2 separate regions of the Homo sapiens genome follow, and region 1 is linked to region 2. Evidence: fine-mapped expression QTL. A gene starts in region 2. The other region holds a variant in brackets. All regions are shown on one strand. Distances are from middle to middle.

Region 1 (4,394 bases), 29 kb before region 2:
TATGAGCAGAAGGCCAAGGAGTCACTGCAGAAAGTGCTGGAGGAGAAAATGAATGCAGAGCAGCAACTACAGAGCACACAGGTATGGGGATGCCACATAGACATGGGGCTGGGGACTCCAGGCAGCTTGGGGAACAAGGGGAGCCAGCTGCACAACTCCCTGGAGCCCTCTCCTCTCTGATCTCCCTCAGCGATCCCTGGCCCTGGCAGAGCAGAAGTGTGAAGAGTGGAGGAGCCAGTATGAGGCTCTGAAGGAGGACTGGAGGACCCTTGGGACCCAGCACAGGGAGCTGGAGAGCCAACTCCACGTGCTTCAGTCCAAACTGCAGGTACCAGGCACTGGGGGTGGGGAGGGAAGACAGGGTATGGGGAGGAGGGATGGTGATGAAAGAAGCTGTTCTGGATTAGGGACTCCAAAGGCAGCTGACAGCATCTGGCTTTCAGTTCCTCAGTCACCACTACTTTGTACCAAATTCACTGTTTTGGCTCTGAAATCTAATTTTGAGTTTAGCAAGGATGTCTGCATTGCTCATGCAAATGAACTAAGCGTTCATTGGAATGACACCATCACCACCCAAATGAAAAGAACTGGCTGGAATATTCATCAGCCTACTAATGTCATCTCCCAACCCACTCTCCAAACTCCATCCCAAAAAAGCATCCAGTTCAGAATTGCCCACTGTTGGCAAAGAAAGAATGTCACTAATTTATTTACAGGTGAGTATTAACACTTTCTGCCAATGTGTATTTTAAGCAATTACATTTAGCAATTACAATTAGATTCTTGGCATCCTCAAGGGTTCCATCATCTTCAATCTGTCCTAAGCCTCAGTTTCCCCATCTCTAAAATGAGGATAATAGTACCTACATCATAAGGTGGTTCTGAGTATTAAGTAAGATGATCCATGTAAAGCACTTAGCACAATGCCTGGCACACAAAAACACTCAGTAAATATTAGCTATTATTTTGCATAGATTTATTTACCTGGTTTGGAATTTTGAGGATCCACCTCAAAAGCTGATCTTTGTAATTTTCCTGAAGCAGGGCTCAGAACAGCCCACTTGATAAGAGACAGAGTATGTGAGTCTTATCAAAGGAGTGAACCCAGCTGGTCACTCTGCGTGGTATCCACAGCTCAACCTTTGTTGTTTTCTTCTTCCCATCACCTATAAGGCAACTCCTATGAAGATTTTTGTGAGGGGTTTTTTAACTTTAAATCTTTGTGGAAAAAAAAAGACCCTAACCAAAAAAAAAACTGATACTGCCAGAAGTAGAAAAAAGAGAAAATGAAAACATCCAGAAAACTAATGACTTTGTATTCCTTAATTTGGTGATTTACCAAAGTGTCAAGACATGACTCCCACACCAATGACAACCACTTACATTTCCCCTAGAATGGCAGATTTTTTAACGTACTGGGTTTCCTAAAGCAATTCTTATTTTATATATTCTAATTTATGTACATGAATGTGTCACTTAGACCTGTCACTAGGGATGGTTTAGAAAATAAACTTACACTGCACATGCCTCAGTCCACTTCAAAACTACTGGCAAATGCCTGTAGTCCCAGCTACTCAGAAGGCTAAGATGGGAGGATTGCTTGAGCCCAAGAGGTCGAGGCTGCAATGTGCTATGATGGCACCACTGCACTCCAGTCTGGGTGACAAAGTGAGACCCCATCTCTAAAAATAAAAATAAATAAATAAAAGACGCGAGTTCCTTGTGAATATCAAAAGTCTAATCTGCTGTTATAAATATGAGGAACAAAGCAAAGGGAAGAAATAGGAAAAAAGAAAGACTTCTCTATTTTCTCATCTCCCTAACATTCCTTCTATCTCTAAAATTCCAGACTTTTCTACATTTTCCTCTTCCATGGTACCCGCCCCCCAACCTCCACCCCAACACTGACCTCCTTCTATATTGGCCC[T/C]TCCTCCTCCTTACAGGGAGCAGATAGCAGGGACTTACAGATGAACCAGGCCCTGCGATTTTTGGAAAATGAGCACCAGCAACTGCAGGCCAAGATTGAATGCCTGCAAGGGGACAGAGACCTGTGCAGCTTGGATACCCAGGACCTACAAGGTACTCTTCTCCTTGGAGGCCTTGAGTGCATGGCAGCCATGGCCAAGTGAGCTAAGAAAAAAGAAACTGAATTAAGAGAAAGGCTTCAGCCTTTTATTTGTTTGCTTGATTGGTTGATTGGCTTTATAATCTCATTTTACCTTGAGGGAGAGGCAGGACTGTTTTAATCATCCAAAATTGAAAATTAATTTCACTGTAGTAGATAGAGTATCTTGTTGTCTGAGCTCTCTTTTTTAGCCCATCCCTCTGGGCCAGATCACAGCTGCTCCCACATCAGTCACATATGTCAAGGCCACAGTCCTAATTTGAAAGGGAAAGGTCAGTTGAAACACAAGGCATAGAGAAAGTCTCTCAGTCACATCCTCTGTGTCCGCTGATAGAGAGGACTAGATAGTGTGTAAACACAAGCCTCAATGCAACCCAACATTGTTGATGCACAAAAACCTGAGGTACTTGGCTTCTGGTTTACCTCTTCAGAACTGGGACACGAAGATAGAGCAACTTCCAATAGACACACGTTAAAGACCATGACAAGACAGCATCTATTACTAATTTCCATCCTAAGTACTGAGTTCATTAAGTCTTGGGTTCCTTTATTTTGGCTTGCATTATTGCATTTTCAGATCAACTAAAAAGGTCAGAGGCAGAGAAACTCACCCTGGTGACCAGAGTACAGCAGTTGCAGGGTAAGTTCGCTTTCCAGATTCTGAAAGTCCACAGGGTTTTCCTGGGGTCCTGGCCCACAAAAGGCACCCAGAGTAGGGACTAAGGGCCCAGTCTTTGGCATATGCTCTAACTCTGTGCACTTTCAGACCCTCTTCTTGTAAAGTGAGGTCATTTACATAGCTCTCCATAAATTATGTGTTAGCCTCTGTTCTTTTTTTTCTACTGTTCTCCTTCCATGCCAATGACACCACTTACATTTCCCCTAGAACTGCAGATTTTTTTTAAATACTGGGTTTCCTAAAGCAGTTCTTATTTTATATATTCTAATTTATGTACATGAATGTGTCACATAGACCTGTCATTAGAGATGGTTTAGAAAATAAGCTTACACTATACGTGCCTCAATCCACTTCAAAACTACATATTGGGCCCAAAGAGGAAAAGGGACTTCTCAGAAGAAAAGCAGTTTCTGAAAAGCTGGAGAACCTGACTCAATTAATACAGCTGCTGGTTGCCCACCACTTTAACCTCTGACACCTGATAGAGAAGCTTCATGAAAGCAGCAATGATTATTAAGAGAGCAAAGCAACCACAGGGAAAAGGGAAAATCTTCAAGCAAAGACTTGAAGATAGAGACATGGTAGGGGGAGATATAAGGATGCTATATTCATAGCAAAGTACCACAGACTGGGTGCCTTGAAGAACAGAAATGTATTGTCTCACAGTTCTGGAGACTAGAAATCCAAGATGTCAGCAGGGTTGTTTCCTTCTGAGGGCGTTTAGGGAAAGATCTATCCCAGGGCTCTTTCCTTGGCTTTGTAGATGGCCGTCTTCTCTCTGTGTCTCTTCACATTGTCTTTCCCATGAACATATCTGTGTCCATATTTCCCCTTCTTATAAGGACACCAGTGATATTAGATTGGGGCCCACCTGAATGACCCCATTTTAACTTGATTATCTTTTAAAGAATCTATCTCCAAATAAGGTCATTATTTAAGGTACTGAGGGTTAGGACTTCAACATATATATTCTGGGGGACAAAATTCAACACACAGCAGATGGGAACATATTTAATAACCAAGGTTCTAAGCAAAGTTCTGAAAAGAAAACTTTTTGTAGTAAATATGCTAGCATAGACAAGTTCCTTGTGTTTTCCAACAGGTTTGCTTCAAAATCAATCCTTACAGCTTCAAGAACAGGAGAAACTCTTAACAAAGAAAGGTCAGCAAATTTATTACCACAAATTCTAAGATATTGCTCTTCTCTTACCTGCCTAGAGGCAGCGGGATGGACTACATGACCTCCTGGAGTCCCAGCCAGTTCTGGGAGTCTGTTAAGTCCGGGATGTGTGGGAGCTTTTTAAGGACTGATCATTGGCTCTGAGGACACTTCAACTAGTTAGCCTTCTATCTTGAGGTATATAAACTGTGAAAAAGGGTTTCTATTCTCTCTGAAAGCACATGTCTGTGTTGAACATTTCAATAAATTTATTTTGAACTCAGGATTTCATGTCAATTTTTACACACTTGATTTTCCAAATCACATCCAACTCCCCAGCCCCAAACCACATAGCAGTCCAGAGTCAACTCACTGTTAGCCCTAGAGAGTCTACTGTCCATGTTTCCTGAGAATTCACTGTGTATACAGAG
Region 2 (4,394 bases):
CTACAAGTAATTTTTTCTTAACCTCAGGACAATAAGACATTTCTTATGAAGGATGGTAACAACAATCCTTTGTATCTGTGTAGGCTTTACAATTTTTACATGAACCTTTACCTAACATGTCTGATTTCATCCTCATAAACCTGAATGTGATATTACTATCCCCATTTTACATCTGGGCTGAGGTGCTTTATTTCCTAAGTCACAGTGTTCTGTACCAAACCCTGCCACTGCACCTTGTCTTCCATGTCCCTCTCATCTTCTGCGCACCAAGAAAGTAAACTAAAAACATCAACAAAGATCCCAGCAGCATAGAGGGCCAATAAAGTGATTGAGGTGGAGACTGCATAACATCCACTCTCAAACACACCTAAATCAGAGTTCTCTTTCTAAACACTCTTGCCACCCAAATCCCAACGCCTGAAGAACCACCTTAGCCTAGTTGAACTCATCTTGGTATCTCTAGCTGCCATCACAGCAAAATGTAAGGCCTGTGTCTCTAACAGGTACTTAAACAGCCAAAGGACAATGATGCTAACCTATCTATTCCCCTCACAGTGAGCATAGAGGAGGGACACTTTCAGCCTCCTCCGAGCATAACTGTCCTCTCCCATACCCCTATTCTAGGGAGCAGGTCCTCCATAAACACCCTCATTGCCACCTCCATAGCTCCTCCCCAGACTAGTTTCCAGGGGCACTGCCACACAAAAGCCGAGATTTGGCCGTCAGTGGTTTTGCTCAGGTTAAAACACACGCCATTTCTCGCAGACAATTCTTAGCAGTCCCAGCTCTTCCCTTTCTCCTGAAAGAAATGAAATGCCATCGTCTAAGTTCCGTTCCTCAGGCTTCCCTGTTTAGCCCTGCTTAGGGGTAAACTGCAGGCCTCTAGTCAAAATGCCCACACCCTTCCCTTCTGCTGGATGGAAGCTGGGGGATGGCGAATGGGAGTTACAAGGTATTGAGTGCCACTGTCATACATCATACACACGTCTCATCCTAAACCACACTCCTGGGTCAACACCAGCTTTCACCAATCCCACCCAAGCGCCTTCCTCTCTCTATCCATCTCTTTTCCCTGACTTCCACTCTTGACATCCACCAAGAGAACAGGTTGGAACAGGATGACCCCTTTACCACAAAGCAGGCTCCCTGTAAAGAGTGACACCTCAGGCCTCCTTTCCAAGTCAGGCCTGGGAGACTTTCCCCATTCTCCACACCACCCTCCAGCCCCTTCGGGCAAAGAGGGCCCACCCCCAGAGCAACCACACCCCAGCGCCACCCTCCCCAGCACCTAGCTCCGCTCCTTGGAAATCCAAGGTTGTCTCCCAGGCCCAGGGCGAAGGGCCTAACTGTGCCAAACAGACTCAGGGAGGGAAGACAAACCGCCAATGCTCCAAAGCTCCTGGCCACCCTCACTCCAGTTTCCCAAAACGCCCACTAGGATCAAGGACCTGCGGACCTGGGAAGTCCCCTCTCTGGGACACAGGGGCCAGCCGCAAGTTGGTAAGACTGAAGGGGGCGCGGTGCTTTAGCTCTACCGGATAGTGGGGTTGTTGACGGCCGAGAGCAGTGCCCTCCGCTTCGGCGGTGGGGGTAGGGAGAGTAGACACAAGTGTAGATTCGAGAGGGGCCTAGCGCTACAGAACTGAGGCCGCCCCAAAGCTATCTGGAAAAGGGCGACAGGCACCCAGCCCCAGTGGGTACCCACCCCAAACACACAGATGCCCCCAAGCAAGTTCTCTCACCCCCTACAAACTCCGGGGATGGGTCCTACCCCACCCACGGGGGAGCCTCTCCTCCCTCAAGCTGGTCCCCAGAAGTTGGCGTACCCACCTTTGCTCAATCTGTCCACCAGAAGCGGACGTCCCTCCGAACCAAGTCCGCAGCGAAGATCACCCGTCGCTACCACGCTCCTCGACGTCTTAGCCAAGGGGCGCCTGGCTCTACCCAAGTAGGGACTGCAGGTTCCTCTCCCCGTCCCGCACCAGCCCTTACCTGCCCAGCCCAGGTGCGCCGAGCTCACGTCAGCGCCTCGCCCCAGGACGCCGCAGCCTTCGCATCCGCCCGGCCACGCCTCCCAGGTGTGGCCACGCCCCCCGGCGTTCGGGATTGGCGAGTTGCAAGAAATATGACACTCCGCGTTTCTGGGCTGCCCGGCCCAGCGGCGTCCGTCCAGCGTCCCACCCTACTCCTCCGCTTCTAACTCCGGCTAAGAAAGTCCCAGATTCAGGCCTAGCCTTACGGCTCAGGGCTGGTGGTCCTGGGAACTGGAAGCGACTGGGAGTTCAGATCTAAGTCGAGAGGGTGCCTCCCTCCTTCACGGCCCATAATTACCCTGCAGTATGCAGACAGTTAAGCACAAATAAGGGTTTTGAGATTCTGGGTTGGCCCTACTACTCGTGGGCCTGTGTAAGTGGAGTTGCACATGAAGAAGAGAACCAGGACACTTGGTCCTGTCTGGGAGAAGCCATAGGCTTTCAGGACTAGAATTCTACCTTTACTCTGCCTCTTACCCGTGTGACCCTGGGTAAGTTACTTAGCTTCTTGGCTTCTTGGTTTCAGTTTCCTCATCTCTTCAATGAGAATAATAATTCCTTCCTTCTTTTTTGTTGTTGTTTGCTTTTTTCTCTTTCTTTTTTCTTCCTTTTTTTTTTTTTTTTTTTTTGGAGATGGGGTCTTGCTATTAAGTTACACAGTCTGGTCTGCAACACCTGGGCTCAAGGGATCCGCCTCAGCCTCGCAAAGTGCTGGGATTACAGGCACTGGCACCCAGTTCAATTCCTTTTTTTTTTTTTTTTTTTTTTTTTAGGCAGGGTCTGGCTCTGTCATCCAGGCTAGAATGCAGTGGCACAATCATAGCTCAACCTCCTGGGCTCAAGCAATTATCCCACCTCACCCTCCCAAGTAACTGGAAATATAGGCATGGGTCACCATGCCCGGCTAATTTTTTTTTTTTTTTTTTAGAGACAGGGTCTGACTATGTTGCCCAGACTGGAGTTCCTGCTTCCTCTGATCACTATCGTGTAATGAGTAAAAGCATAGCCTCTGGAGCCAACTATTGGGGTTTAGACCCCAACTCCATCAGTTACTACAGACTTGGGAAAGTTTCTTAAGCTTTTTAGGCCCTGGTGTCTTATCTGTAGAAAGAGGTTAGTAATAGTACCTACCTCAGGGGTATTGTGGGAATTCAATAACTACATGTAAACTGCTTGCAACAATATTTAGCACTTATCAAGTGCTTTATATGTACTTGCAATTATTATTGGCATAAAGATTAAAAATACCATATAGACAGTGCGTCAGAGAACAAGAAGGCATTCCTTGTTATTACCTGAAATTCAAGTCCTGCATGTACCCTAACAGGTGCTTGATGAGATTGCCCTCACCTTCCTCATCTATCTAGAGGACCGGTTTGCAGGAGGCTGTGCAACAGTAAATGAGACTTTTAAAAATCCCCCACCCTCAACCACTGAGCTGTCGTAGGTGAAATGGGGCATGCGCAGGTCACTTAGGTTTTGGTGTTTAAAGTAATGAGTGAGAAACTGTGGAGGAGTGGTACAATGAGTTGAACTGTCACCCACATACAAAAAAATTTGTATTTGTATTTTGAAGTCCTGACCACCCCCACTGCAACCACAGCCAGATGTCAGAATATGACCTTATTGGGAGACAGGATCCTTATGGAGGTAATCAAGTTAAAACGTGGTTATTAGGGTGAGCCTGAATCCAATATGAATGGTGTCCTTATAAAAGGAGGAGATTTGGACACAGAGGCAGATACCCACAGAGGGAAGGTGATATGAAGAGACATAAAGAGAAGACAGCTAGCTGCAACCCAAGGAGAGATACCTGGAATAGAGCTCTTTTTTTTTTTTTTTTTTTCACATCCCTCAGACCCTTGATTTTAGACTTTTAAACTCCAGAACTATGAAACAAAAAATTTCTGTTGTTCAAGCCACCCACTCTGAGGTACATTGTTATGGTAGCCCTAGCATACTCATACAAGTGTGTTGAAGAGCCCCAGATTGATAATAATGTAGGCATGATTCCAAGTCCCAATTTAGCTTTGGAATGTAGCCAGCAAAGGCCTGGGAAGGCAGCAAGGCCCCAAGGCCTGACTCAGCCAGCCTCTGTCTCAACCACTGCCCTGTGGCCACTCTTCCCTTCACTGGGGGAAGGGCAAGCTCATCAGCACAGCTAGCTGTTTACTGCTGATGAGCTCACTAGACAAACAGCATCTTCCATCTGGCCCAGGGCTGGGCTCTGGGGACCAAACAAGCTCCACTGCAGGTGTATGAGAGGGATGAGGGGTAAGGCCATTGGGAGAGTGTCATTTGAGGGGAGTCAAAACCCCAGTGGCATACAAGTATGAGCCCACACACAGGCACTCACTTTTG

What was found. PIP is the estimated chance that this variant, and not a neighbour inherited with it, causes the effect. A credible set is the group of variants that fine-mapping cannot tell apart.
Region 1: its variant is the best candidate, but not a certain one, in a credible set for the expression of IRF6 in lung (TOPMed, PIP 0.73).

Annotation. Positions count from the first base shown.
Region 1 is chr1:209,775,409-209,779,802 of GRCh38, forward strand. TRAF3IP3 (TRAF3 interacting protein 3) reads left to right here. Exons shown (of 17, transcript NM_025228.4): 10 at 1-81; 11 at 191-328; 12 at 1,944-2,079; 13 at 2,703-2,765; 14 at 3,907-3,966. C1orf74 (chromosome 1 open reading frame 74) reads right to left here. Exons shown (of 2, transcript NM_152485.4): 2 at 3,800-4,394. Among named protein-coding and RNA genes, the nearest start is that of C1orf74, 7.0 kb to the right of the region's middle. RefSeq lists a silencer at 2,462-2,662. The variant T/C (reference allele first, on the strand shown) is at 1,928.
Region 2 is chr1:209,804,117-209,808,510 of GRCh38, forward strand. IRF6 (interferon regulatory factor 6) reads right to left here and starts at 2,026. Exons shown (of 9, transcript NM_006147.4): 1 at 1,831-2,026. RefSeq lists a silencer at 1,948-2,291.